Linked DNA regions of Homo sapiens: all the other regions are reported to be linked to region 1. The links are microRNA targets in miRTarBase. Many come from high-throughput screens and were not tested one by one. Region 1 holds a microRNA gene; each other region holds the end of a gene's coding sequence.

Region 1 (4,840 bases):
ATTTAAGTAGTTTTGTACCTAATTTGTGGAATTCCATTGAGAACTGTGTGTAAGTTCATCATTGAGAACGTAATGACTGCTGAAGAATCATATTTGAATTTTAAATGTCATTAATATTGTCAAAGAGTTATTTAAAATATCCAGAAGTTTGTGGGTGTGCTGGATGTTGTGTTCCTTGGAGCGGAGCAGGCATAGGGTGGGCTGGCTCTGTACCCCCACCCAAGGCAGGAGCTGGTGCCAGGCTACCTGGGAGGGCCTGAAATCACTGATTCTCAGTACTGGACTGGGGCCATGGGCATGCATCAGACCCATCACAATAGCTAAGGAAGAGAGGAGAAACTGAGGTCCAAGGAGAGGAAGAGCCTGCCCAAGGGTGTGGCCTGCGGCCTCTGACTTTACCCCCACATGGCCTTGTTACTGTTTTGAGTCCGTGTGGCCATCTTCTCCTGCTGAGCAGCCCATCGCAGGGCAGCCGCCAGTTGTGGGTCCAAGTACAAATAGTTTTCCCTCAAGCAGCACTGTCCTCGGAGCCCATTACATGCTCAGCTCCTCCCCCTGGTGGCTAGCAGTGATTCCCCATCACCCCAGCAAGACTCTGGGCAAGAGCTGGAGTTTTCAGGAGCCCCATCCTCTAGCCAGGCAGTGCCACACTTTTTGGTTGAGGCCAGGCAGGTGATATTGGACCAAGATGCTGAAAATGTAATGACATTCACAGTGGAAAATAATGTGCTTTCCTGCTTGTGCTTATTTTAAGGAACCAAGGCATGCTTCATCATCCTCCTCCTGAACTGTTTTTTCCAATAACCAAAACATTGGTCTAGGCAGGCTTTTTTCTTGCTAAAATTTCCAGAGTTTTTTTGTTCCTTCAGACATATTAATTATAGTCTCTTTTTTCTCTAGCCTATTAGTAATGCTGATTTTATTGTTCCGGTTGAAATCGATGGAACTATACATCAGGTAAGAAACTGAAGCTAAATTTGAGTTTCAATTAAGATTTTTTAGTACTTACATTTCCTATGAACTTTATTTCTAAATTCTCATTTCAGTAATAACTTTATTACGGAATCAAAAGGAAGCATACTGTAATAAATACAATGTTTTTCTTTTTTTCACTCCAATGAATTTATTTTATACTGAGATTATAAGGAAACTATAGTCGTAAATATTAGATGCGGTTGCAAGTTCAAATAGTTCTTTGATTTGAATTTCAGAAGTTTCCGTATCCCCCACTGGCCTAGCTTGATGGTCTAATTAACTTCCTTGTGTAATTGCTTTCGGCTACTCTCCTAGCAGGCAACAGGAAAATGCCACAAGTCACCCACTTATGGTGGACTCTCGGGAAAAAGTGTCCATTTTCAATGCCAGCTGCTCCAGACTGATCTTATCATTCCTGCATCGTTTTCTCCAGAGAATCTTTAGCAAATACCCACCCCAAAAGAAAAAGGGGGAAGGGTGTGAGTTTTCGGATCCGCAGGCTGCTATGAATAAAGATGCCGTAGTCAGTTGGCATGCGTCTTCGTTGCTTCTGATTTTTTTTCCTTATCTGCATAAAGCTCTTCCGGAAATAACTTCATTTATGAACAAATTGGGAATGTTGTAGGAAAACTAGCTTTAGAGGTTGAAGCTGGGGGGCTTTTGTCAGATTTTCCACAGGGATGATCTAACCATCTTCCTTGTCAAGTCCAAGGTCTTAAAGGGAGCGTATCTGGCCTGATATCCCAGGAAGGAGACTTTCCTGGTACTTGAGCCACAACGGGATGTCTTTTCTTAGCAATGTCAGTAGTCTTTGGTTCTTGAGTGCAAGGTGTCAGAACTGGAGAAAGCTTGGGAATCAGCTGGTCCAGCTGCCTCATTGTCTAGATGGAGAAACTGAGGCTCCGCCAGGGAAGGGGTTGGTTAAAGGTCATACGATGGGAAGAATTAAAATGAAAATTCCAGTCTCCTGCCTCCTGGCCCAGGGCTCTTTTCCTGATACGCAAGTCCCTTCCCTCCCATGTCCTTGCTTTCTTGCTTATTCTCCAGGACATCCTGCCAGGAAACAGTCCCGGGGAGAGGCAGCTTTTTTCCTAGTGTTTCCACACTTCATGCTTTTAAAAGCCATCACAGAGCCAAAACGGCAGGCACTTGGGCATTTAACATTTGCAAAAGCATCAACTGAATTAACTCAGCATCTGAGAAGCAGTTAAGGCTTCTGCATTTATCATCTTGGCTTGTGTTACATAGTGCTCATGATGAGACAAAGGAGAGGCTGCCCAATGGCATAGCAAGAATTAGGAGAGAAATTAATCCTTTGTACCACGTGACTGTAAGCATGACTGGCCTGCCCACTGCTGACCCATTCTTGCAGGAGCTCCCCCACCCTCCATCCTGGCTGTGCTGTGATATCACAAGGTCCCAGGGCTGGGGTCAGAAATTCTCTCCCGAGGGAATGAAGCCACAGGAGCCAAGAGCAGGAGGACCAAGGCCCTGGCGAAGGCCGTGGCCTCGTTCAAGTAATCCAGGATAGGCTGTGCAGGTCCCAATGGGCCTATTCTTGGTTACTTGCACGGGGACGCGGGCCTGGACGCCGGCATCCGGGCTCAGGACCCCCCTCTCTGCCAGAGGCACCAACACCAGAGTTCACAAATCAGTCTCCTGCCCTTTGCATGTAGCAAAGCTTGCTTTCCAAGCAGGACTCCCAGGGTGACTGAGGACTACAGGCCACACCCGTTTGCTGGCAACGAGGAGTCTTGTGGGCAAAGTGGGAGTCTGCAGCTGTTGCAGCCACAGGCCCTGCCCTCAGCCCTACCCCAGCCTCCCAGCTCCTCAGAGCTGTGTTGGCACCCGTGCTACGACATCCTGTTCCTCCAGCCCCTCGCTCCACCCTCAGCCACAAATCCATGTCCACCTCCTTCTTTCAGTCACCCATGAATTTCCCACTGAGTCCTGGCCCTCCTGAGCTCCTGCTTCTGGCACCTTGAAAATGACTTGGTTCTGTATAGAATTCCTCGGCCAGCAGCACACCCAGCATGTGGTGCAGAGCCCTCATCTCCCCTCTGCTGCTCCTCCTGCCATTCTCACCTGCTCCATCTGCCATTCAAGGCCCTAATGTGCCCACTGTGACCTGCCTCTCACTTCATCTTCAGCCACTTCCTCTCCCAGACCCTGCTGCTCCGGCTTCTCTCACTACCTCTGATGGCTGGGCACACAGCCTGGCTACTCTCTAGCTTCTCAAGTATTCTCAGGCCTCGGGTCTCACCCTCTACTGTTTCCTCTGCCTGAAAGCCCACTTCTTCTCAACCTTATTGGCCTGGTGAACTCCTTCAAGGTCCAGGCCAAATGTTATCTTCTATGATCCCCTCCCCTTGTGAGGGGAGTTAATTGTCCTTAATTTATCCCTCTACTACAACTTTCATTATGCCATGTTTATTTTTATATGTTTTTGCCTATGTCTGTTCTAGAGTATGAGCTCTTCAAGGGCAAGGCCTGTGTTTTATTCATCTTTGCAACTACATCAGGCTGAGCTCAGAGCTGAGGCTCAGTAAACATGCTGAATTGAATTTTAAAGAGTTTGATTTATTTTAGTGAAGTGGCTAATTTCAAACGGAATTTATTCAAGTTTGAATTAGTTCTTCCCTCCTCCCACTTCCTCTGTCTTCTCTCACCAGCTTTGCCTTCTCTCCCATCTCCCTTGTTTCCCCAGATTCATTCAGGCTCCCTAATCAAGAACCTATGTATGGTCTGAAGCCTGGCCTCCTCACTGCTACCCCCTGGCCTGGCCTGGTCAAAAGGGTGCACAGAGCCCAGCCATTCTAGAAAAGGCTACTCTTTGCACCCCTCTGCTCAGAGACCCCTCCTGATGGATTATGTCTGGGGTCCAGGAATAGCGATGGTTTCACATCCCCTGAAACATACCAAGCCCACCCTTTATGGTGTCATAGACAGCTTCCCAAGCTGACAAGGAAGCCCCTTCTTGCAGCTTTGCTGGGCCTGTGCTTCAACCCCAGACCTTCCTAGTAAGGGGGATGTCCATCCAGAACAGAAGGTGGCAGCCGGAGCAATCCCAGACCTGCTGGGCAATATGCTGGGCCTGGACCTCTGAAAGGACAACACCCAGACCGTGGCCCGTGCCCACACAGGTCCTGACCCTCAGCAGGTGCCAAGAAACACACGTGAAATGAATGAGTCATTACACACAAACATGGTACAACCCTTCCATTTGCTGGCCCTGAATATCCCCAAGACCCTCACACCATGGTCAGCTTCTCTTTTTCCCTTAGGAGGGGCGTCTGCAGTGAACTCAGACCTGGAGCCCTGTCTGAGGAGTGCCACGTCTGACTCCATAGCCCCTCATACAGTCTAGGCCTCTGCCTGCTATGCATAGACCTGGGGGAGGGAGGCAGGAACCTTTGTAGCAATTCTTCCTACAGTGGGCATTTGGGCCCCAGGCCATCCCCAGCAACTGCCACATCTGACCAGCCTGCTGTCTCCTGCCATTGCAGGTGTATGTGCTGAAGCGGCCACATGTGGACGAGTTCCTCCAGAGGATGGGGCAGCTTTTTGAATGTGTGCTCTTTACTGCCAGCTTGGCCAAGGTGAGTCCTGCTTCCCAGCCCCACACTCCCAGCCTGGTACTCCCAGCCCCTCCACCCCTACCCCCAATCTGTCAAGCAGCCCTTTGTTTTGGTGGGGGAAGCCATTTCTATGGTGACAGGTTCCCACCCCAGATGGGATGGATGCAGGCCATGTGCATGGTGCCAGTCTGAAAGCCTTCTGGGTTACCATGGTGACAGGGAGCACTTAGAACAAATGCTCCATGAAGTTGCTGTGTGCAGCCACCTGAAGCTGGGTGTCCACAGTC
Region 2 (4,840 bases), not on the chromosome of region 1:
AGATTCCAGTTTGAACTGACTCTGGAGGAGGCAGAGGAAGAGGATGAGGAGGAAGAAGAGGAGGGGGAAGAGACAGCTTTAGCCAAAGAGGCCTTGGAGTTGCCTGACACTGAACTCCTGTCCCCTGAAGCCGGCCCAGACCCTGGGGACTTACCCCTCGACAACCAGAGGACTTAGGGCCAGCCCTGCGTGAACTGCAGGGGCAATGGATGGTAAAGCCCTTTGGCTCTTGGCAGGCAGACTTTCCAGGAAGAGGCTCCATGTGGCTCCTGCTTCACTTTCCCACCCATTTAGGGAGACAATCAAGCTCTTAGTTATAGGTGGCTCCCAGGGTCTAATTGGAGGCACCTGGCTGGGGTCCACTCTGACCCTAGACTTGCCTAAAAGAGCTCTCTAAGGGGCAGCCTCTTACGATGCCCTGGTGTCTTTCTCCTGGGCTTCTATCCCTGTGAGGAGAGGTGCTGTCTGCTGGAGCCTCTAGTCCACCCTCTCCAGTGGTCACTCTTGAGTCACATCTGTCACTTAATTATTTCCTTCTTTATCAAATATTTATTGCTCATCTACTTCGTGCCAGCTTTCTGCCTCTGTAGTAGCCCTGCACAAAGGGTGGGGAGTCAGGAGACCATCCCAAAGGCATCTCCCTGTCTTCCTCTACCAAGCGGCTCTCTGCAAGAGCATGGAAATGTGAGTGGGGAAAATTTTCAGCACCAAAGCTTCACTCATACCCAGTTTTGTTTCTGAAACTACGGTAGGGGGCAGGAAGAGGAGCAGAAAAGAAGGGCTGGGCAAGGCATAGTGGCTTATGCCTGTAATCCCGGTACTTTGGGAGGCTGAGGTGGGAGGACTGCTTAAGCTCAGGAGTTTGAGACCAGCCTGGGCAACATAGCAAGACCCCCACCATCTCTGAAAAAAAAAATTAGCCAGGCATGGTGGTGTGCACCTGAGAATCCCAGCTACTCAGAAGGTTGAGACAAAGGGGATCGCTTGAGCCCAGGAGTTGGAGGCTGAAGAGAGCTATGACTGCATCACTGCACTCCAGCCTGGGCAACACAGCAAGATCCTGTCTAAAAATAAAAAGAAAAGAGAAGGAAAGGAAAGAGACGGGGCTCTGAGGCCGAGCACAGTGGCCCATGCCTATAATCCCAGCACTTTGGGAGGCTGAGGCAGGTGGATCACCTGAGGTTAGGAGTTCGAGACCAGCCTGGCCAACATGGTGAAACCCCATCTCTACTAAAAATACAAAAATTGGCTGGGCATGGTGGCGGGTGCCTGTAATCCCAGCTACTGGGGAGGCTGAGGCAGGAGAATCACTTGAATTCAGGAGGTGGAGGTTGCAGTGAGCCGACATCATGCCACTGCACTCCAGCCTGGGCGACAGAGCAAGACACTGTCTCAAAAAAGAAAAGAAAAAAAAAAAAGCCGGGCCAGGTGGCTCACGCCTGTAATCCTAGCACTTTGGGAGGCTGAGTGGGGGTGGATCGCCTGAGATCAGGAGTTCAAAATCAGCCTGGCCAACATAGTGAAACCCTGTCTCTACTAAAAATACAAAAAATTAGAGGCTGGGTGCGGCGGCTCACACCTGTAATCCCAGAACTTTGGGAGGCCGAGGCGGGTGGATCACGAGGTCAGGAGTTCAAGACCAGCCTGGCCAACACGGTGAAACCCCATCTCTACTAAAAATACACAAATTAGCTGGGCATGGTGTTGGGTGCCTGAATCCCAGCTACTCGGGAGGCTGAGGCAGGAGAATCGCTTGAATCCGGGAGGCGGGGCTTGCAGTGAGCCGAGATCGTGCCATTGCACTCCAGCCTGGGTGACAGAGCAAGACTCCGTCTCAAAAAGAAAAAAAAAAAATTAGCCAGGCATGGTGGCAGGTGCCTGTAATCCCAGCTACTTGAGAGGCTGAGGCAGGAGAATCGCTTGAACCCGGGAGGTGGAGGTTGTGGTGAGCCGAGGTCGCGCCACTGCACTCCAGCCTGGGCAACGACAACAACAATAAAAAGAGGGGGCTCTGTGCCCGGCATGTCTCTGAAGACTGATTGAACCTATGCACCAGTTGTTGCTTTAAGTCGCTTTATTTTCTGTCTTTGGTGTCTCTGGATGTAGGAGCCCCCTGCTTTCTCTGTCCGCAGAACTCCATACTGGGTCCCCTACGTGTTCCTCCTTCCCTAGGACAGCAACAAAAACACACAATTTTCCCTCTCTAGCAGGTCTCTAAGTCTCCTGATTCCTGAAACTGCCTCAGACTCCCCCTAGAGGGAGGGAGGCCCCTGAGGCTTTCTTGCCATCATAGCCTCTTCTGGGCCTCAGTTTCCCCTCTGTAACCTGATCCTAGTACTTGGATAAACTCCGACGAGGTGTGGGGGGTTGTTGTCTGTGACCTCCCTGAAATATCTTAGACATTTGGGGTACTGAGCATTTATCTGGGGTTAAATAAAATCTTTACATCTTAAGACATTCGATTGACCAAATTGAGTGTCCTGGCCATTTCACTGATGAGGAAACTGAGGCGCAGAGAGGTCCTCTTGCCAGCTCAAAGTCAAGCATCTGGGCGCCCAATGTTAGCCAGCGGCACCCCCTGGTGGCGGGCGTGGGAGACACGGCGGGGCGCGCTTGTCGGGGGTTGGGGGGTGGGTCGGAGGGGTGGCATCCTCCAGCCCTGATGGTCCCACTTACCGCACCTCGCCGGGAAGAGCTCGTCCTGCTGGTCGGGCCTCCGAGCGGACTGGGCAGCACCATGCTCAAGCCTAGGGTTCGATCCCCGCCTCCGGAAGCCTCAGTATCCATCCCTCCCCTCTGCCTCCCTCTTCGCGTGCCTGAATATTTATACAAGATACAGGCGTCATCACAGCCGCCCTCGGCTTCCAGAGCAGCTGGCTTCGTTCATAAATATTATAACCACTCAGAATTCATCATCATCACAGTTAATGATAAAATTCCACAGTGCCAGAACTAAAAGTCATCCGGGTTCACGAACTTGGTGCATTTCCTTCCAGACTTTTAAAAAGAAGATATTTAGGGAATTTTTTTTTCAAGATTTTTCCCCCCAGTCCGCTTACAAAGTAATACCATGTTCGCTGTAAAAAATTTGGAAATAATGGAAATGTATAAAGAAGGAAATAAAATTCTGCTGTATCTCCACCCATGGATTATCTGCAGTATTTTGACTTATTTCCCTCTAGTTTTTCTCCATCTGTTATAAGATATTCATATTTTTGGCTGGGCGCGGTGGCTCACGCCTGTAATCCCAGCACTTTGGGAGGCCGAGGCGGGCGGATCACGAGGTCAGGAGATCGAGACCGTCCTGGCTAACAGTGAAACCCCGTCTCTACTAAAAATACAAAAAATTAGCCGGGCGTGGTTGCAGGCGCCTGTAGTCCCAGCTACTCGGGAGGCTGAGGCAGGAGAATGGCCTGAACCCGGGAGGCGGAGCTTGCAGTGAGCCAAGATCGAGCCACTGCACTCTAGCCTGGGTGACAGAGCGAGACTGTCTCAAAAAAAAAAAAAAAATTCATATTTTTTTCTTTCTTTTCTTTTCTTTCTTTCTCTGTCTTTCTTTTCTTTCCTTTTCCCTTTCTCTTTCTTTCTTTCTTTGCGTCTCGCCTTGTCGCCCAGGCGGGAGTGCAATGGTGTGATCTTGGCTAACTGCAACCTCCGCCTCCTGGGTTCAAACGATTCTCCTGCCTCAGTCTCCTGAGTAGCTGGGATTACAGGTGCCCACCACCATGCCCAGCTAATTTTTGTATTTTTAGTAGAGACTGGGTTTTCACCATGTTGGCCAGGCTGGTCTTGAACTCCTGACCTCATGATCCGCCTGCCTCGGCCTCCCAAAGTGCTGGGATTACAGGCATGAGCCACTGCACCCAGCCCTAGAATATTCATATTTCTTATAAATGAATATTCATATGTTCTCCTTCAGTTTGAGCCAAAGGCATTTGTCCCTCTCCTCTTACTGACTGCATCTGCTCTGGCCACACTGCAAGCCTGGTCCCACCACAGGGCCTTCAAACAAGCTGTTCCCACTACCTGGAATGCTTCTCTCTCAGCCCCCAGCCTCACCCATTAGATTTTTGTTTTTATTTTTGTTTTAGACAAAGTTTCGCTCTTGTTGCCCAGGCTGGAGGACAATGGCGTGATCTTGGCTCACTGCAACCTCTGCCTCCCGGGTTCAAGCGATTCTCCTGCCTCAGCCTCCCAAGTAGCAGGGATTACAGGCGACCGCCACCATGCCCGGCTAATATTTAGTAGAAATGGGGTTTCACCATGTTGACCACGCTGGTCTTGAACTTCTGACCTCAGGTGATCCACCCACCTCGGCCTCCCAAAGTGCTGGGATTACAGGCATGAGCCACCACACCTGGCCCCCACACTGGGTTTTAAGTTAGTGTCTTCTTCCCCGAGAAGTCGTCCCTGGACCCGTATCTGGGATACTTTTTTTTTTTTTTCTTGAGACAGAGTCTCCCTCTAGCACCTAGGCTGGCGTGCAGTGGTGCCGGTGATCTCAGCTCACTGCAACCTCCGCCTCCCTGGTTCATGCGATTCTCATGCCTGGGCCTCCTGAGCAGCCTCCTGGGACAGGCACCACCACACCGGGCTAATTTTTGTATTTTTAGCAGAGATGGGGTTTCACCATGTTGGCCAGGCTGGTCTCGAACTCCTGACCTCAAGGTCAAGGAGTGATCCTCCTGACTCGGCCTCCCAAAGTGCTGGTATTACAGGCATAAACCACCGCACCTGGCCACATTTTTATTTTTATTTGTCTAGTGTAGACGATAGGGTAGGGATGCAGGGAAGCCTCTGGACTTTCCTCTGAGTGGGACCGGCCTGGAAGCCTAGCCCG
Region 3 (4,840 bases), not on the chromosome of region 1:
GTTTAATTCTAGTACATCTGTCATCACTATACACTGAGTAGAATACAGTGGATAAGCAAAGGTTTCTCCACCATGGAGAGAGATTTGTGTTGCCACAAACTGTTTCTGTCACCCACCCGTGTGGGGACTTCTGAGAAAGTTTTCTTGTTCCAAGGAGCCATGTGACTCAGCGCGAGGCCCTGCCTCAGCAGAAGCTCTGAGCCAGAAGCCACATATATTGCTGGAGACAACATGGCACAAGGGAAAAGCCCTGAAGAGGACAAAAGATCAGCTTTCAAAATAGGTGTGGTAAGGCTGCACAGTTAAAAATGAAAACACAAATAAGCACATTTACATCACTGCTGTTCAAGTGCACAATTGAGATGGATCCAATCACTTTTCTAAAGAATCTTCACACCATTCAAACGTTTCTGTTCAAGTAAAACCAACCAATAAAAACAAATTCAGAGAGAAGACGTGTTCATCTCTTAAGCCAACAGCATCACCTGTCTGAAGACCACTCTGCCCGACAAAGTAGTCCAACGTGTTGCTGAAGTTCCATTTGGTATAAAAATACAGCTTTTTTTCACCATCAACTCTGCCCAGGCCTTTACTGTTTAACAGCTGCCCATTCAGAGAGACTGAAGATCGAAGTATCAATGTTAGAGGTTACAGCTGTCTACCTTCTAAGCAAAAGAGCCCGGATTCATAGGAGATACTTTGCAAGATCAAAGGAGACTCACATTTCAGGTTGAATTAGATGTGATGTTAATGTGTGATACATCAGATCAGGTGGAGCTGTCATTTTTGTAGATCAGAACTCATCAAATAGCAGGGTTTCATACAGTTTAACCTAATATAATTTAGCATTGTAAATTAATTTAAGCACACATCTCCCTATTATCTTTTAGGACTCAAAGTTGTAAGACCTAAACATGATGGCAAAGTTTTATTCTTTGGAGTGAAAATTTAGACCAGCATTGTCCTACGCCGTATGTGGGTGCTGAGCACTTGAAATGTGGCTAGTGTGACTGAAGGCACTGAGTTTCTAATTTAAATTTCAGTCACATGTGGCTAGGGGCCATTGTACTGGATGATATAAGTTTACACATAATTGTAATTTGCTCCTTGTCATGTTAAAGTGTTTAGCAGATGTGTTCTGGGAAGATGTGGGATTTATCCAGTTAATATTAAAATGGAAATGGAGCTACATCTGCTCCCACAACTTCAGATATCCAACCTGAGGGAAAGCCACCAGACTGTTTTTATATCATAAACTTAAAAAAAAAAAAAGGTCAAGATGTTTTTAATAGAACAGGCTGGGCGTGGTGGCTCATGCCTGTAATGCTAGCACCTTGGGAAGCCAAGGTGGGTGGATCACTTGAGCCCAGGAGTGCAAGACCAGCCTGGGCAACGTGGTGAAACCCCATCTCTAGTAAAAATATTAAAAATTAGCTGGGTGTGGTGGTGCCAGCTACTTCGAGGCTGAAGTGGGAGGATCGCTTGAGCCTGGGAGGTTGAGGCTACAGTGAGCTGTGATCATGCCACACTGCACTCCAGCCTGAGGGACAGAGTAAGACTCCATTAAAAAAAAAAAAAAAAAATTGCCAGAAAGTCTCGTTGGCTTAACACAAGATACATTTTGTCCCTTGTGGAGAATTGGTAGGCTATGTCTACCAACCCCCACCGCCCCCAACCAAAAAAAAGAAAAAAAAAAAACCACCACAGGACTGTCTTAGAACACTTGTAGAAACCACAACTGCTTTCTTTAAATGGGATTCTGGTTCCAAATTTGAATCTTTGAGTTAAATCTGTTTTTTAAAAACAAAACTGTCTGGGCGTGATGGCTCACGCCTGTAATCTCAGCACTTTGGGAGGCTGAGGCAGGCGGATCACCTGAGGTCAGGAGGGAGGTTGAGACCACCCTAGCCAACATGGTAAACCCCCGTCTTTACTAAAAATACAAAAAAAAAATTAGCCAGGTGTAGTGGTGGGCACCTGTAATCCCAGCTACTCAGGAGGTTGAGGCAGGAGAATTGCTACTCGGGAGGCCGAGGTTGCAATGAGCTGAGATCGTGCCACTGCACTCCAGCCTGGGCAACAGAGAGAGACTCTTGTCTCCAAAAACCCCCAAAAAACAAAACGAAAACTCCACTTACTTACTCCAACAGTATTTTCAACTTGTCCTATCAATCAGGATAGGCCAGAGAGAGGTGTTAAAACCCAGAGCAGCGAAGATTCTAAATTTCCTCCTGTGGAAGCACACCCCCCAGTGATAAACTGAAGTGCGGGTGATGATCCAAGTAAATCCCAGAGGGTCACACCTCAGACTCAGATGCCAAACACAAGCAGTAAGTAAGTCTATAATGGACATGTCGTGACTTCCAGTGGTACAACTAAGGGGGAATGAGATACTGATTCAAAAGGAGGCAGACGCCATGGCTTTACCTCACTGGTAACACCTATACCATGTCAGTGAGTCACAGCATTTTTTTTAAACATTACATGTATTTGGTCTTTACTCCCATCTTACCTCCCCGCAAACAAGTATGCCCCAAAACCAAAAAAACCAACAAAGAGAGTAATTCTTGTATTTGCAGGACAAGTACAACTGAACCAACAAATTTATTTAGTTAGTGCTGATAAAGACAGCAGCCTTGAGAGACAAGCAGTAATTACCTGGTCTACTTAATGATGCCCTTTGTTATATTTTACAGGCAAAAAGAATGATTCCTCAGCAGTCATTGTGAAATTTTGTGGGCCACAAGTATTGTGCACACATGATCCTTGATTTAGAGTCAACCTGATGTCCATTATAGCTGTGGAAAGGCAGCAGGCAGTTGTGTCGCTCTTCACAATAAGGAACACATCTTGCTTTCAGCATGTGAGAGGAACAAAAGCATTGATGTAAATGTGCCTCAAAGTGAGAACTGAAAACATTAACATAAAATAAAAAAGTCAAATAAGACTAAGTTCTTACAACTACCTATAAAAATTGAATTATTACAACTAAAGCAGCAAATCAAAACATCTGCTGAGGTTTTCTGGTAGAACAACAACAAAATTAGTTGGTGCCCATGTTCAGTAAGTCACTACCATTGACAAAACTAAATCCAAAATAGGAAATTGAAAAGTGCATAATGAAATTAAATCTTGTATCAAGTATTTGTGGAAAACTGGAAATGTTTCTCTGGTATGGTTGGTGAATGATGATTTGGAGGAGGTATTAAAGTTTATCCGATCCAGCTTTGGCCTGGTGTTCCACGTAGAAAAGGATGTAGGCCTTCGCCTTCACCACAGTCTCCTCGTCAGTCAGTGTTACAGTACTGTCATTGAAGTGGAACCAGCGGCCTTCGTGAGTTGCGTATGCTGTGTAATGTCCAGAACCAACCCTGTAAAGGCAAAAGACCAAAGGAAAAAAGAACCTCAGAAATCACAAAAAGACCTGTACAACTATATAATGTTAGATTTAAATTTTAATAAGAATACATCCTAGACTTTTGATTTAAGATGCTTGTTAAATTAATGTTTTTACCTTCCTCCAAACTGACCAGAAATCGAGGGTTTGCTAGAACACAAAGCAGATGGCCCTGGACTAATGGAGAAAACAGAGATGAGGAACTCGCAACCTAACAAGCACAGGTCAAAGCCTACGGAAACATGGAAAACTAGGTACCAGGTTTTCCCATCAGAATCTTAGGAAAAAACTAAGCTTAACAAAGAAGGGCACCCTTCCCTGACACCGTGGTCATCAGGGGCTCTACCCTATCAGCATGACCCACCCACTCACACACACAACCCTGGAGTCAGTCCTCCAAGTCAGACGGAAGGCCTGCAGCTAGAACAGACCTTTGTAGGTGCCAGGAAAACCCTATTTAAATAATAAAGATCCATCTCATCATTTACTATGATTCCAAATAAACCACCAAAACCAAATTTTAAAAACAAGCCTTTTGCACGCCTACAAAATCACATTTTTGAGGGGAAAGAAATACCGGGAAGAACAAGCAAGGCAATCAACCCTGAGGAATTGAATGCAGAAAACCTAAGAGAACTTTACATTTTTAAATTAGTGCTAATAGTTTCAAAAAGATAGTGCAATCATAAAACAAGAATAGGCTGTTACGAAAAAGTTGTCAGAAAAATGTGACTGATTTAATATAAATATTTTATGGAGGAGCTTATCTTTTATTTGGATACAGATGAAACCCAAATTGGTGATTTGGAAAAGTAGGCCATGGCAGTCTTTAGAAACACAGACAGAAATCATTAGAGTATTTAAGACATGTGGAAGGGAGATCCAGGAAATTCACTATGCATATAATAGGGGTACAGAGAACAAATGATTTCAGACCTACAGTATAGAGAGTTTCATGAGCTGAAGGCACCAAATTAAAAGTGTCCCTACCAACTACCAAGCAGGAATACACTCCAAGGAGAAAAAAGCCAGGTGCCTGTAAAGTAGTGAGAATCAGACTTGTCATTCATAACACTATGTGAGTGTAGACGTTACTTTATCACAGCTCTGCGGGAAAAGGATTTTCAACATGGATAGTCGTCTGCCCACATATAGTAGTCTTAAGTTTGAAGGTAAAATAGCCACTCTCAAACCAAAAACCAGAAGGTTAGACCCCTCATACAAACTTTCAGGGGAAAAAATTAATGTTTTTTAACAAGACTTAAAATGAGTCTTTAAAGTAGATGATATGGAGTAAGTTATTCCAAGTAATTTCCCCTTTTGCCCCATTTAAATTTCAGTTGGTAAACGAATAAGCAACTTTGGAGTTTGTGGACAAATAAAGACTGGGTCGTAAATACTGGGTTCAAATGAACCATTCTTCATTTCACTTTTATTTACCTT
Region 4 (4,840 bases), not on the chromosome of region 1:
TGACAACTACACCAGGAAGTGGTTAAGCCCTCACATTGTTGTTTCTCTCTCTTTAGAATCAGGATTCAGAATAAGCAATTTCCTTTTTCATTTTCCCATTTCTCTCCAACACACCCTGAAGGCCTGCAGAGCAATGATGAGCTCACACTGCCCCCTCCTGCCCATTCCCTCCCTAACAAGGAATATATTCATTATTCCCTGGCCCTCATTTGCTCCCATTCCTGTAAAGAAAGAAAAGCAACAGAATGCCCCCACAAAAGTCAAATGTCTTTATTTTATATAAAAAAAATTTGTACAGTTTTAGTTCCTATGTTTAAGAAAAAAATCCTAAAATTGCCGTAATGTTTAGATCCACTGCAAACTGTAGAAACAAGCTTTTTATATATTAAAAAAAATTTACATTTTACAATTTTCTACATGCATGCACAAGGTCTCAGCTCTGTAACCCCACCCCCCCAAAAAAAAGGAAAAAAAATCTAGATCCAACAGTGGAAAATTCTACATTTACAATCTCACTTGGAAGGGACTCAAAAAGCCCTCTTCCTTTTGCGCACGGAAGAACAAATCACAACAATCACACACCAGGACTGAATCCATCAGCAGATACTGCCCTGTGGGAAGGGCAGAGGAAAGAGAAGACAGACGGACTGACAGACACCACAGAGGAACAGGGGAGTTAGCCTGGGACCAATGGAGGAGAAGTACGAACCCTGGGAAAAAGACGTGTCAGATGAGAAAGTTCCGGAGAGTCCGATGTCTCATCGCAGGTGTTACATCATCAGGGTTTGCCATTGGAATACTGAGTGGAGATGGGAAAGAGAAAAGTTAAGGGCTGAAATGGGAGGGGAATGGGAAGAAAAAATGAGAGACAAGAGGGAAATAAGAAAAAACAAAGAGAGCACAAAGACCAGTTTAGGAGAAAGGACCAATGGGGACAGTGGCAGAGTGGCGAGGTAGGTGAAGGACTGAGGCACAGCGTCCTGTTGTGGAGGGAGGAAAGGCAAGCGTTCCGAGGTGGTGAAAAGGAAGGCCTGCTAGGCACGGTGGGGATGAACGAGGATGCCATGAGTCACACAAAAGACAGTGCTGGTGAGGCCCAGCCACAGCAGCCCTATGGTGTCAAGGGGGTAAGAGGTGGGCATACCCCCACAGCAGGAGAATGAGCAGATCCAGCGCATGATGGGACAGACACAGTGGGGAAACTGCTCAGAGGGACTGAGTCAGCTGCACACCCCACAGCAGTTCACAGCATGGAGACAACTTCCCACAGGGGAGAAGCAGAGGACAAACACATGGCCATATGTCTGACAATTCATCCTGACATTTTAAAAAACAATAGTAATAATAATAATAATAATAATAATAATAATGAAAAAAGACAAAGATACCACAGTTCTGAAGCAAAAGACCAAAATGCTACCATTCTCAGGCACAGCCCTTAGTGCTTAGAGAGTTGGAGGCAAAAAATTTTTTTTAGGAAAGGGGAATGAAAAAAAAATCACAGTGATTAAAAACATGGCAGGATCTTAAAATAAACACTCCCCAGCCCCTAACCTAGGGCAGCAACTAAGATCCCAAATCCTTTCCCTCTCCCCCACCCCAACCTGCTCCTCAGACCACACCACACTCCATCCTGTCCACAAAGGCAATGACCCCAGTCACCATCCAGGCCCTGTTTTCCAGGATAGTGAGGTATTTATGTGACTCAGAAGGGACTCTCTGACACAAAGTTTTTGAAGAGAAGAAAAGAGACAGACCCCCAGAACAGGACATATTTCATACAGGCCTATCTCATAACCCTGGCCCCAGCCAGAGGCCCTGCCTAAGTGAGCTCCACAACCCACCCCTTTGGGGACAAGGTAAGCATTGGCCAATGAGCTCCTCTCTAGCATGCGGTGGGTAAACAAGTGAACTTTTGCAGAAAGGACAGCAGGAGAAACCCCGATCACTAGGCTCCATCATTCCCAGGGCTGGTGCTACACAGAGGGGGAGCCTCCCAGGGGAGACACTGGGGATCTTATCCCAGGATGTGCTCTGCAAGGTAAGTACCAACCAGTCTTTCAGGGAAAAGAAGGGCCTACAAAAGGACACTGTGAGTTACTCAGAGGAATGGCCTAGTCATTGCAGCCATCAGAAAGGTCCTCCATGTGGATCCTGGCTGGATGTATATGGGTACTTCCTAATTCTACTCTCCTTGGCAAAAATGTCTGAGTCAAAGGCTCAGATTTATATTGAAAATATTTATTAGAGGGCCAGCAAATTTTGCTCAAAATGAGATCTAAATTATCAAGAATTTGGATTTGGTGCAAAGACTATGGAAGCTAAAATGGGGTGAGGGGTGAAGTACCTACAAAAGGCAGTAATCCTTGCCCCTCAACCCAATACAGACGGAGCCCAGAGCTCAGAGAATCAGGCAGGGAGAAAAGGGGTGGGGACCCTGGAAGGCCAAGGAAACGAGACCCCTGAGGCAAAGAACTGGACTTAAGGCAGGGGATGAGGAGGAGCTGCCGGCTCTTCCCCAAAAGAGATGAGGCAACAGGTCTCTGGAGTCGAGAGAAGGCGGCAGGACAGGGGTGGCTGGTGACAAAAATAAAAACATTTGTCTAAGACCACAGGGGCTGGGTCAGGGTCTGCAAGCCACTATGTCTGTACAGGAGTCTACATACCATCCTTCACTGGGAAGAGCGGGGACGAAAGTGAGGGTAGGGTTAGGGAGCAGGAGTCAGTGATGGGGGTCTCTCCAAAACCTCAGGGATCTATTCAGCCCTCCTCCTCAGGGGCTGCCTAGGAAGACACATTGGAAGAAAGGTACCTTCCCCTAAGTCCCTGGAAAAGTGGTCACAGAGGGTTTCCACGTGGTTGCCTATGGTCACGTGACCATACAAACCAAAAACATTAGGTGGAGATTTCTGGGAAAAGGATGGGATCCTTCTTTGCTCTAAATATATGTGGAAGCAAATGCTCCTAGCAAGGAGATTTCTAACTCGGGCTGTGTGGCAGGAGTATCCCTGCCCTAGAACCCAGGGTTTGTTGTGGCTGGGGTGAGGGACAGGAGGGCCAGTTGCTGCCCTGGAGGAGTTTGGCACTGTGGCTCTCTGGAGTCATGTCCATGTGCCCCAGAGAAACCCTGTTGGGCCACTGAAGAGAAATGTTTTAAGAACTTGGATTTGTGAGTCGGGGCTCAGGAGGGGAAAGTACAATCAGCAGGGCCCTGTGCCCTTTCAGGAGAGACTGTAATCTGGGAAAAGACTAGGGAAAGAAGAGGGAGAGAGGCACTGATTCCTGCAGGGCCTAGAGTAATACAAAAGTTGTTGGTGAGGTGGGAGTCCTTCCCAGGTACTGTTGACAGCAGGATGGTCTCTCCAGGTTCACATGGGGTAAAATAAGGAAGAAGCGAGGAGAGAAGGTGGGGGTGCGTTAATTCAAGTAAAAAAAAAAGAGCAAGAAGAAGAAGGGTGGCAGGAATGTGGCTGGGCCTGAGAACCAAGCCCCCTCCCACCCCCTCAGGACCCCCCAGAGTTTCCCACTCCCCCTGCTGTTGCACAGTCACACTGAGGTCTCAGACTGCAGCCTCATGACAAACTTGTGTGACTTGGGATCCACAAATTCCTCGGAGAGTTTGAAGAATGGGACCTTCTTGGTGCTGACCACCAGGCTGAAGTCCTGGCGTTTTAAGAGGAAAACGATGCCATCCTTGAGGCCGTTGGTCACCGGCTCCTCGCTCACCAATGTCCACTGTTTGGCCAGCCAGCGTTCCTTGTGGTACTGGATGGTAGGTCCAGCCGCCAAGTATCGCTCCAAGAAGGCCTGAAGTGGAAAGAAGGGGCTGCATAAGAATCTCTGTCATCTACCCACGGTCCTTCATCCCCTAGGTCATAGTTTCCAAAGACAAGAAGGACGTCCCTGAGCTCACTCTATGCATATGAACTAGAACCTCAGAATGTTACAGCAGGAAGGGGCCTGAGATCATCTGCTTCAGACCCTCATTTTATAAATGAAGAAGCCGGAGTGCACAGGGGGATGTGGCTCATCAGGTAGGACTGAACTCGGCTCCCCTGACCCCCATCTGCTGCTCTTCTCCCTGCACCAGGCTGTGACCTGGGCAAGCCCTCCCTCATTCTTCCTTCCTTCCCACACAGCTTGTATGATTCGTGCCAAGCAGGTCTGCACCAGGAGGGAGCCAAAGGTGTCAAGGTTAAAGTGCAACATCTTTAGTTACCTGCTCACCAAGGGTGGCTCAGGGAAAGCAATTCTAGGAAGCTGGCAATAGAGTTGAAGGTGGGCAATGGCTCAAAATGACACAAAGCCAAGACCAGCTAGTGGAGGTGAAGAGGGTAATGGAGGTGAAAGTGGGCCTTTGGATCTGGTAATTCCGGAGCCCTCATAGAGATGAGAAATAAGTCTCAGCCATCCCCAAAATGGTCCTGAGGACTCCCTTCTCCTCATCTACCTAAAGACTTCACCCCACACAGATGGGGCAGGTGGAATAGGAATGAGAGAGAAGATTATAAAAAGGAGGTGGTGAGGAGAGAGAAATGAGGTGGACAGTGAGGAAAGTAGTGAGAGAATAAGGGAAAATGAAGGTGGGAAAGAAGAGGAGCTGGGGAAGGAGGAAGGATGCTGGCAGCAGGGCAGGCCTACCTTGGGCGTCATGTCATGCGTGATGCAGAATTCAAGGTGCTGCAGGATGCTCTCCATGGTGTGGTAGGGCTGCTGCTTGGTGGTCCGAAGGTACTTCTGCATGGCACGGGCCATGGATGCAAAGATGGCTTGGGCTGCCTCCCGGGGGTCCATCACCTCCCTGGGGTTTTTCTGCTCCTCTTCCTGCAGCCGCTTAATG
Region 5 (4,840 bases), not on the chromosome of region 1:
TCGCATACAGCAGTGCAGTGCCGTTATTCCAGTCTCCGTAGAAACGCTGGGACTATGGCGGAGCCGACTGGGCTGTTGGAGATGTCCGAGCTCCCCGGAGATAGCAGTGTCCCACAGGTGGGCACCGCGAGTGGCGTCAGCGACGTACTGCGGGGGGCAGTCGGCGGCGGGGTTCGGGTGCAGGAGGCTCGGGAAGGCCCAGTGGCCGAAGCTGCGCGGTCCATGGCGCGGATGCCGGGCCCTGTGCCCGGGCCCATCCCCAGCAGCGTCCCGGGCCTGGCCTCCGCGCCAGACCCCCATCAGCAGCTCGCTTTCTTAGAAATTAACCGGCAGCTGTTGTTCCGCGAGTATCTGGATGGTAGCTCCATGATTCCGGTCAGATTACTACGGGATTTCGAGGAACGCCGCAGGCTGTTTGTGGAAGGCTGCAAGGCGAGGGAAGCAGCCTTTGACGCGGATCCCCCGCAGATGGACTTCGCTGCTGTCGCGTTTACGGTAGCGCTGACTGCCTCCGAGGCCCTCAGTCCTCTGGCCGACTGAGTCGGCTGTGATGATGACATTGGTGGCAAGGAATAGCCAAGTGACCCTTTTGGGATCAAAAGAACAGGCAGGCTGTGCCAGTTTAGTTAACTCAGTCATTAGGGGGAATGCAAACTGGAAGGGAATACGGCAATGTGCAATTGAAGGAGGAAGCACACTCCGAAATGGAAACAGACAAGACTGTTGAATCTTGTTTTCTTTCTTCTTTTTTAGTATTATTTAAATAGAGAAGGGAGTCTCGCATCCCTAGGCTGGTCCCGAACGCTTGGACCCGAGCGATCCTCCCGCTTCGGCCTCCCAAAGTGCTGGGATTACTTTACAGGCGTGAGCCACCGCGCCCGGCCGAATCTTGTTTTCAAACAGGTCCCAAGACACTTCTGACTTAGCACTTTGTTAGCAATGCATTTTCCTGCATTTGTGAAGAATCCTTCATGACTTTCACCATAAAGGATGGTTTTGCAAAGATATGAGAAAAAAAAAATGCCAATAACAGAACCCATAGAAATGAACCTAAGTGATGAAAGAAAACAAAGAAATAGAGTTGTCAGGAATCCAGGTGTACCTGAGTTACTAGGATTGGAAGGCTATTGAGAGGACTTTGAAATTTCACAATTTGTGGTCATGTCAACAAATCCTAGTGTAAGATTCATATTTGTGTTTTCTGAGGTACTTTAGATGAACAGTAAATATTCAATAGAAAAAACCACGTATTATATGATCAGTGTTTTCAAGTCTATGTGAAATTGGGTAGGTGTGGAATAAACTTGTTTTTTGTTAATTTTAAGCTTTTTATTTTATTCTAGAATATGTATTCTATTCACAAGACTCAACAAAAAAAAGTATCGGCCGGGCGCACTGGCTTACGCCTGTAATCCCAGCACTTTGGGAGGCCACGGCGGGTGGATCACCTGAGGTCAGGAATTCAAGACCACCCTGGCCAACATGGTGAAACCCCATCTCTACGAAAAATAAAAAATTAACTGGGTGTGGTGGCACGCGCTTGTAGTCCCAGCTACTCGGGAGGCTGAGGCAGGAGAATCACTTGAACCTGGGAGGCGGAGGTTGCAGTAAGCCGAGATCACGCCACTGCACTCCAGCCTGGTCAACAGAGTGGGACTCCGTCTCAAAAAAAAGAAAAAAAGTATCAAAAGATGCTGTGAGAAATCTCTCTTGTTGCTGTCCTTTGCCAAACTCAGAACTATTCCATGCAGGTGCCATTGCTTGTGGCTTGGAGTTTTGTTGTTGTTTTCTTGGTTTTGCTTGTTTTTTGCTTTTTCACTGTACGCCTTTCAGGTTTTCTAATGCATATGCAAATAAACATCAATCTAAATATTGTGCATTTTCCCTTTTAATATCAAGGTAGTTAACTTGCATCACGAGGTATAAATTTTTAAAAATATAAAATCAAGGTAACATATTGTATACCTCTATCAGCATCTTGGGTTTTTTCAGTTATATATGGAGAGATTTATATATCAGGGTTTTTTTTTTCTTTTTTTATATATAGAAACAGAGATGGGGCCTCATTATGTTTTCTAGGCTTGTCTCCAACTCTTGGCTTCAACTGTTCCTCCTGCCTCGGCTTCCCAAAGTACTAAGTGCTGGGCGTGAGCTACTCCACTGGGCGTTTTTTTTTTTACAACTACAATGTAAAGCCTTATCTTAGTATAATGAACTAGACACCTTTTGGACATCTGGGTTGTTTGCAAAATGTTTTAACATTTTCTATGCATTTATACGTGTTTACTCGTTTTCCATAATACACTGTTTTTTTTTTTTCTTTTTGAAACAGAGTCTTGCTCTGTCACCCAGGCTGGAGTGCAGTGGTGCAATCTCAGCTCACTGCAATCTCTGCCTCCTGGGTTCAAGTGATTCTCCTGCCTCAGCCTCTGGAGTACCTGGAACTACAGGCACGTGCCACCATGCCCGGCTAATTTTTTGTATTTTTAGTAGAGAAAGGGTTTCACCGGTTAGCCAGGATGGTCTCGATCTCCTGACCTCAAGATCTGCCTGCCTCAGCCTCCCAAAGTGTTGGGATTATAGGTTTGAGCCACCGCACCCAGCCACCTTATTTTTTGTTTGTTTTTGTTTTTTTTCTGAGACGGAGTCTCACTCTGTCGCCTGAACTGGAGTGCAGTGGCACCATCTCAGCTGACTGCAACCTCCACTTCCCGGGTTCAAGCTATTCTGCCTCAGCCTCCGAGTAGCTGGGACTACAGGTGCACCACTGTGCCCAGCTAATTTTTGTATTTTTTTAGAGAAAGGGTTTCACCATGTTGGCCAGGCTAGTCTCGAACTCCTGACCTCGTGATCCACCTGCCTCAGCCTCCCAAAGTGCTGAGATTACAGGCGTGAGCCACCGCACCCGGCCCCACCTTGGTATTTTTAATGTGTCACCAGAGTGCTGTCCTTGGGGCTCAACCAGTTTACCTTCCATTCAGCCAGGGATAGTTGTGCCTCTCGCCACGGCCTGGCTAATCTGACAGCTTTGGAAGCATCTGACAGTAAAAGATGGTTTCTCACTATGGTTTTAATTTGAATTTCTCTAATTACGAGTGAGGACGCATGTTTTCAAATGCTTAAGAGCCATTTGTTTTCATTTCTCAGCGAACTATCTGTCCATATTCTTATTTTTTATTGGCTTGTAAGTTATGTGTCAGTCACTAAAGAAGTTAGCCCTTTGTGATGACATGGAATATAGTTCACAGCAGTTCAGACTGCTGTGATCCTTTTGCCATGCAGAAAAATGTTGGGTGGGCGTGGTGGCTCACTCCTGTAATCCCAGCACTTTGGGAGGCCGAGGCGGGCGGATCACAAGGTCAGGAGATCGAGACCATCCTGCCTAACACGGCGAAACTCCGTCTCTACTGAAAATACAAAAATTAGCCGGGCGTGGTGGCGGGCGCCTGTAGACCCAGCTATGCAGGAGGCTGAGGCAGGAGAATGGCGTGAACCCGGGAGGCGGAGCTTGCAGTAAGCCTAGATTGAGCCACTGCACTCCAGCCTGGGCGACACAGCCAGACTCCGTCTCAAAAAAAAAAAAAGAGAAAAAAATTTTTAATGTAGCTGTGTATATTCAGTTTATTTCTTTTGCGGTTTCTAGACTTTGAGTCATGGGGCCGGGTGTGGCTCACTCCTGTAATGCCAGCACTTTGGGAGCCCGAGGTGGGCGGATCGCAAGGTCAAGAGATCGAGACCATCCTGGCCAACATGGTGAAACTCATCTCTCCTAAAAATACAAAAATTAGCTGAGCATGGTGGCGCGCACCTGCAATCCCAGCTACTTGGGAGGCTGAGGCAGGAGAATCACTTGCACTCGGGAGGCAGAGGTTGCAGTGAGCCGAGATCATGCCATTGCACTCCAGCCTGGTGACAGAGCGAGACTCCATCTCAAAAAAAAAAAAAAAAAAAAAAAAAAGAAAGGTCTTTGCCACTGCAGGATCATGAAGGAATCTGGTTTTTTGTTTGGTTTTTTTTTTTTTTTTTTTTTTTTGCCTCAGGTTGCACCCTACCTTCCCCCCACACTCATGAATAGTTTTAAGTTTTAAATGTTAACATTACAATTTTTATTCATTTGGAATGTTTTAGGTCCTAGTAGTGCTAGTCCACCCTCATTGCTCTTCTTTTCCAAAGTTTTTCAGGCTGTTCTTTGATTTTTTTTTTCTATTGTGGAACTTTAGGATCATCTTGACTAGTTTCAATTTTTACAAAAGCTGTTAGTATTTTTATATAGGTTGCATTCAATATATATACTGTTGAGTGAGAATTGACATCCTCACGATGTCATCCTATCCAGTAATGTGGTAAGTCTTTTCATTTGTCCCCAGATGTATTTTAAAGTTTCCTTCATATAGGTCTTGCATATTTTTGTTAAAAATATTCCAAGGTTTGTTTGGTTTTCTGTTTGTTGTTTATGGCTATTGTAAATGAGGTTTTATGGTGTGTAAATTTGAATGCTATCTTTTTTTTTTTTTTTTTGGTGCTCTATTAAACTTACTCTATTCTCTTATTGTTTGCAGTAGCTTTTCTTTGGTATACAATCATATCATCTACAAAGAACAATAGTTTTACCTCGTTCTTTTTTTTTTTTTTTTTTTTTTTTTTGAGACAGAGTCTCGCTGTCGCCCAGGCTGGAGTGCAGTGGCACCATCTCGGCTCACTGCAACCTCTGCCCCCCAGGTTCAAGCGATTCTCCTGCCTCAGCCTCCTGAATAGCTGGGATTACAGGCGCCCACCACCACACTCAGCTAATTTCTGTATTTTTAGTAGAGACAGGGCTTCACCATGTTGGCCAGGCTGG
Region 6 (4,840 bases), not on the chromosome of region 1:
TCTGTCGCCTTAGGTTCTCAATCTGAACAAAAAGATACTAAGCGGCAGAAACACCCTGAGACTTAGCCTCAATGAAGCACTGGATGCCTTCTCTGTTAAGCATCTCAAGCACTGTTAAAGATACTGTGTTGTGATGCGAAACAGACATTGGACTAGGAGTCACGGCAGTCTTGGGTTTTAGCCTCAGCTGTTCTTGTTCAGATCATTCTTTTCTGTGATTATTTATTTAGTTATAAAATAAGAGGGTTTAAAAAGAATATTACATTATGGTTTTTCTAGCTTTTAAGATTCAAAAGCAGAATGATTTTCACTTAAGTTTTAACTTGTTTTGTGGGGATACTGGCAAACATTCTGTCACCTAGTGGTCAATTTCAGGTTTTGCAGCTAGGGAATCAAAGAAATCAGCTGTCCCACCAAGCAGCTACTCTTAGGGATGCTCAATTTTAGGAACTATGGTTTTATTCCAGGGGCCAGATATCAGTAGCTGCAGCAGAGGAGAGAAGGACAAGTGCTCCCTGCTTAGAGAGGACTGGGTGACTACCTGGTTGTCCTGGTTATCAATTAAGAGGAATCTTGCCTCTCAGGATGTCTCTGGAGACATTCATGGGTGCCTAACTACCAACAAGTTGTCAACTTCCCCAGGTAAGCCAGGTAAACTAAACCTGAAAGTGGTCAGATTAGGAGAATGACTGCTAGAATACTCAAGTGATGAAAGAAAAGTGATCCAATGAGGTACTGAAGATGGATATACCTAACCCAAGGTCTCTGGACACTCCACAGAACCCAACTGTTAAAATACATAAGATGAAGTATGGATGAATCAGAATCAGAGGTAAGCCTGGCCTTCAGATTCTAGAGAAGGCTTTTGTTTCCCCAAGTTAGGGTGGAACCCATGAGCTGAAGCCTGTGAAACCAGAAGACAAGAAAAGTATTTCAGCAGCCAGTGGTCTATGTAGGGAAGAATATAGAACCTGTGTCAATTGGGCCAAGATGTCTTGGATTTCAGACACTCTTAAGACTTTGTACTTCAGGAAAGGATAAAAGATTAATCTGAAAAGGGATGGGTAAGATCTCCTGGCAAAGAATGGGAGTCCCAATTGGAAATGGGGAGAAATGTGGAGTGTATGCATTTCTAAATACTGAGCACAAGCAAATGGTCCTCATCAAGTAGGGTGGATTTTGCCCAAAAATAGTATTATTATTTGTTCTATTATTTTTAAGCATGAAAAATGAATTTAGGGTCAGCTATTTAGAATTTGGGAATGCACTCTATGGGCTGATTTTCTAGCAAAGAGAAAATGGATTATGATGATGTGCCATTTTGGGACAAGTTTGCTGACAATCTTAAATGTCTCCAGAAACCACTCATGTTATTTATGAAAGACCCAATAATTCTGCATTGAGAATGCAAATTAGGACAGAAGACTGTTGGTTATCATTTATCAAAGGTTTTCATGTTGCTTTACAAATCCGGAATGGGTGGTTGTAAGTTACTTTCTCTAATTTGTTTTCGAAAAAGTCTACCAGCCCATTCCCTCAGACATTCAGGTTTCCATTCTTGAGACTACTATTGTTCTCTGGTGTCAGAGGAAAATCTGCCAAGCTCCAGAAAGTAGTCCTAAATAGCATAGATAAGATATAAGATTCAGCTTCCTTTCCTAGACAAAGAGAAAAATAGCAGTGCTTATTGTGCCTACATTTTCCTTTACCTCTCACTTACAATATATCATTCAAGTGATATAAGAGAGAGATGGGGTAAACAGCATCCTAGCTGACTCAGACATCTTGAGGGGAAAAGGAAACTAAAGCATTCCAGAGTGTGTGGTACTTGGTAAAGTAGAAGTCTGAGTTCTTGCCCCATCGACATTCAACAGACTGAAAAACTGGGGAGGGACACAAACTTTACAAACTCTATGATCTGAGGTAGGGTGAATAGTTGTCAAGTCCACCATTTAGCTTCCATTTTGGAGATCTGATATATTAGAAGAGGAGAAGAAACAGGCAGGTTTACATGCCATTTAAATTGGTATATAGACCATAAATTAGAGATACGAAGCTGTAATTGATAAATGAAGATAATAAAGAGTATGTTTTAAAAATTAGAGTATATTTAAAAAATTCTATTAATATTTTAGTGTCATTAAAATTGGGAGTGCACAGATTATAAATTCAGAAAATATAAAATGTACATGAATTTCTCATATTTTTACCTAACAGACTGTCTGAGAATAAAATAAAAATGAGTTTTGTGAAATCATGGCCTCTTTCAAGATCATGTCTAGTAACATGGTCTCACTTGAATGATTTGTCAACAAGTGCCATCAGAGGTCAGTGAAAATATTCTCACAATGGATGGAAATTTAAGCATTAAACAAGCATAAAGTTTCTTCTCACTTCACATATGAAAACAGTACATGTACAGAAATTTACTTATCCTGACAAGTAATAAGCTCTGATACAAATAAGCTCTCACCTTCCCTAAAAGAATAATGCCTTGTTCTCTAATTCAATTCCACATAAGATTAGTTGAAAAATGAACCTGATATCATCTTTTCTTGATGTCACTCAAAGTCTGATCACTTGAATATTAACTCAGACTCCACAATCTTAAAAGTAGCACTAACATACCAGCTTAAATGCCCAGAAGAGGAGTGGGTTATTCTTTTCAACTAGTATATCCTTCCTTAGCTTTGCCTGGTGAGCTCATCTTCCAGTTCAAACATTACTTCACGTTTTAAAAACCTGTACAGAACTTGAACTCTTCAAAGGGTGGGGGAGGGTTCCCTCAAAGGAAAATTGAGTTGTTTACCAAAAGGAGGAATAAAAGAAGTAGGTATTTGTCTCATTCATCTAGGCTTCTCCACTGTAACCTAGCATTGTATGTGGCACATGAAAATTCCTCAGTACTAAGTGAGAGAATTACATCAGATGACTCTTTCTGTGTCTTCAAACTTGTCACATTTTTTCTTTGGTTCCCACTTATGTTTGACAAATAGACATGTATTTTTTAAACAGTTATCTACCTTTTTTTCCAAAAGAGAAATTCTCCCATTTCAACCTACTATCTCAATATAACTGGATAACCTCATCCCACTCAGAAATAGGCCAGATTCCATTGGGTTGCACATTGGGAGGAGAGCGCTTCCAGTCCCACGTCTTTACAGGAATCTTCCAGGTCTTACCATAGTTGGCTTCAATGTATTCGAGGGTTTCACAGGGTACATGGACCTTCATGTCTACAAACTCAGTCCAGCACAGTGTAAACTTCGGAAACAGGTATCTGCAGCAAAACAGAGGGATTAGGCTTCAACAGTGGAAGAAGGTCTAGCTAAGGAATCTAGCTGCTAGTGCATTATTGGCTGAAGGACAGTGCTCTCCCATTACACAGCTTTGGGAAGAGAGTGGATATTTAATTATTTTTGACTGTCCAGAATCCCTTTCCTCTTCTCCAATTTTCCTTTCCTGTTCCAAGCTCATAGGATTGAGGAGAGGCTGACCCCATCACTAAGACTCAGGCCAGTAAGTTAATGATTGAGGCAGGGATGGGAACATACCCAAGTCAGGCAAATCAAAGTCAGCCTTGGGCTTTCTGTTGGAACTGTAGAGGAAAGAAGTGTCAAAGTAGAAAGCTGTCAAAAGATGGATGAAAATGATCTTTTTCTTTTCTTTCACAATCTGGATTTTCCAAGGATACAGAGTAAGCAGGACTCCAAGTTGCATTTCCAGGCTTTTCCTTTGGTTCCATAGCTTACATGATCCTACCTGTGGTTTCTGCCTTTCATCTCAAATGCTAAAGAACATCTTTAAACCAGCCCAAGGAATACTAGTTATAATGATTGTAACTATATTTATTGCAGAACTAAGTCGATTAGTAGGTAAGTTTTAGAAATTAAACCAGGCCGGTCGTGGTGGCTCCCGCCTGTAATCCCAGCTCTTTGGGAGGCTGAGGCAGGTAGATCACTTGAGGCCAGAAGTTCGAGACCAGCCCGGCCAACATGACGAAACCCCATCTCTACTAAAAATACAAAGAAATTAGCTGGGTGTGGTGGCACACTCCTGTCGTCCCAGCTACTCAGGAGGCTGAGGCAGGAGAATCACTTGAACCCTGGAGGTGGAGGTTGCAGTGAGCCAAGATCACGCCACTGCACTCCAGCCCGGGTGACACAGTGAGACCCTGTCTCAAAAAAAAAAACAAAACAAACAGAAATTAAACCAAAACATGTTTCTTAAAGATCCTTTGGATCAAGTAAACTAAATTATGTATACTAGAAAAGAAAGCTAAAACTAGCAGGTCTGTTTAAGTTTATATTATAGCTCTGCTCTATATTCTGCATTTTTTTTCTGAGAAGTGTTTCAGTGTGGGAAGAACTTTCAGTAATGAGGTTTAAAGTGGCAATAGCAGAGATTACAGGAATTTAAAATATCAGAGGATTAAAGAAAGAACAGGGAAAAGCCAGATTTCAAAGTGTAATCATATTGTGGAAATGGGATCTAACTGGGATGTTCTCCAAGAAAAGGTCAGTTCTCATATATTCTGCCTTTGAATATCGTGTTTTACTACCAAATGAACATAAAGCCATACATGAAAAGGAGAGGCTGAACAAATTCTAAAGAAAGCAACAACTCCCTTTTACTCAAACCCAGTTAATGGACAATCCCAGCTGGCTACTGTGAAAAGGTGGCCACGGAAAATCTCATAGCTGAGAAATAAGATACAGCTTAGCCCCACCATCTGCTGGTCCCAATTTTACTCTGCACACTCATGTTAACGGAATTGCTTATTTTGTCATCACACCTAACAATCCATCACCAGCCTCCACCCTCTCTAATCAGATGCTGG

Evidence for each region. The annotated mature microRNA hsa-miR-26a-5p reads UUCAAGUAAUCCAGGAUAGGCU and lies in region 1 at 2,488-2,509, shown strand. An mRNA with a match to its seed (bases 2 to 7 or 8) in the 3' UTR can be bound and repressed. Matches are read on the target gene's strand: a 7mer-m8 pairs with bases 2 to 8, a 7mer-A1 pairs with bases 2 to 7 and ends in A, and an 8mer does both.
Region 2: miRTarBase lists PDE4C as a target of hsa-miR-26a-5p. Seed matches in the 3' UTR shown: 7mer-A1 at 1,310-1,316 and 7mer-m8 at 1,892-1,898.
Region 3: miRTarBase lists USP3 as a target of hsa-miR-26a-5p. Seed matches in the 3' UTR shown: 7mer-m8 at 3,138-3,144, 8mer at 414-421 and 7mer-A1 at 345-351.
Region 4: miRTarBase lists VANGL2 as a target of hsa-miR-26a-5p. Seed matches in the 3' UTR shown: 8mer at 3,422-3,429.
Region 5: miRTarBase lists EID2B as a target of hsa-miR-26a-5p. Seed matches in the 3' UTR shown: 7mer-A1 at 1,581-1,587.
Region 6: miRTarBase lists FKTN as a target of hsa-miR-26a-5p. Seed matches in the 3' UTR shown: 7mer-A1 at 1,730-1,736 and 7mer-m8 at 1,164-1,170.

Annotation. Positions count from the first base shown.
Region 1 is chr3:37,966,926-37,971,765 of GRCh38, forward strand. It overlaps MIR26A1 (microRNA 26a-1), which reads left to right and starts at 2,479; the gene lies at 2,479-2,555. It overlaps CTDSPL (CTD small phosphatase like), which reads left to right. Exons shown (of 8, transcript NM_001008392.2): 5 at 901-957; 6 at 4,482-4,574. RefSeq lists enhancers at 2,149-2,712, 2,713-3,274.
Region 2 is chr19:18,206,266-18,211,105 of GRCh38, reverse strand. It overlaps PDE4C (phosphodiesterase 4C), which reads left to right. Exons shown (of 15, transcript NM_001098818.4): 15 at 1-3,141. The coding sequence ends at 177. Among named protein-coding and RNA genes, the nearest start is that of RAB3A, 4.6 kb to the right of the region's middle.
Region 3 is chr15:63,589,192-63,594,031 of GRCh38, reverse strand. USP3 (ubiquitin specific peptidase 3) reads right to left here. Exons shown (of 15, transcript NM_006537.4): 15 at 1-3,371. The coding sequence ends at 3,206. The region is part of intron 2 of USP3-AS1 (USP3 antisense RNA 1); the gene reads left to right. Among named protein-coding and RNA genes, the nearest start is that of FBXL22, 5.8 kb to the left of the region's middle. RefSeq lists an enhancer at 2,368-3,567.
Region 4 is chr1:160,424,085-160,428,924 of GRCh38, reverse strand. It overlaps VANGL2 (VANGL planar cell polarity protein 2), which reads right to left. Exons shown (of 8, transcript NM_020335.3): 7 at 4,642-4,840; 8 at 255-3,807. The coding sequence ends at 3,547. Among named protein-coding and RNA genes, the nearest start is that of VANGL2, 26 kb to the right of the region's middle.
Region 5 is chr19:39,528,017-39,532,856 of GRCh38, reverse strand. It overlaps EID2B (EP300 interacting inhibitor of differentiation 2B), which reads left to right and starts at 5. Exons shown (of 1, transcript NM_152361.3): 1 at 5-1,870. The coding sequence starts at 55. The coding sequence ends at 540.
Region 6 is chr9:105,633,491-105,638,330 of GRCh38, reverse strand. It overlaps FKTN (fukutin), which reads right to left. Exons shown (of 11, transcript NM_001079802.2): 11 at 1-3,280. The coding sequence ends at 3,067. Among named protein-coding and RNA genes, the nearest start is that of TAL2, 27 kb to the left of the region's middle.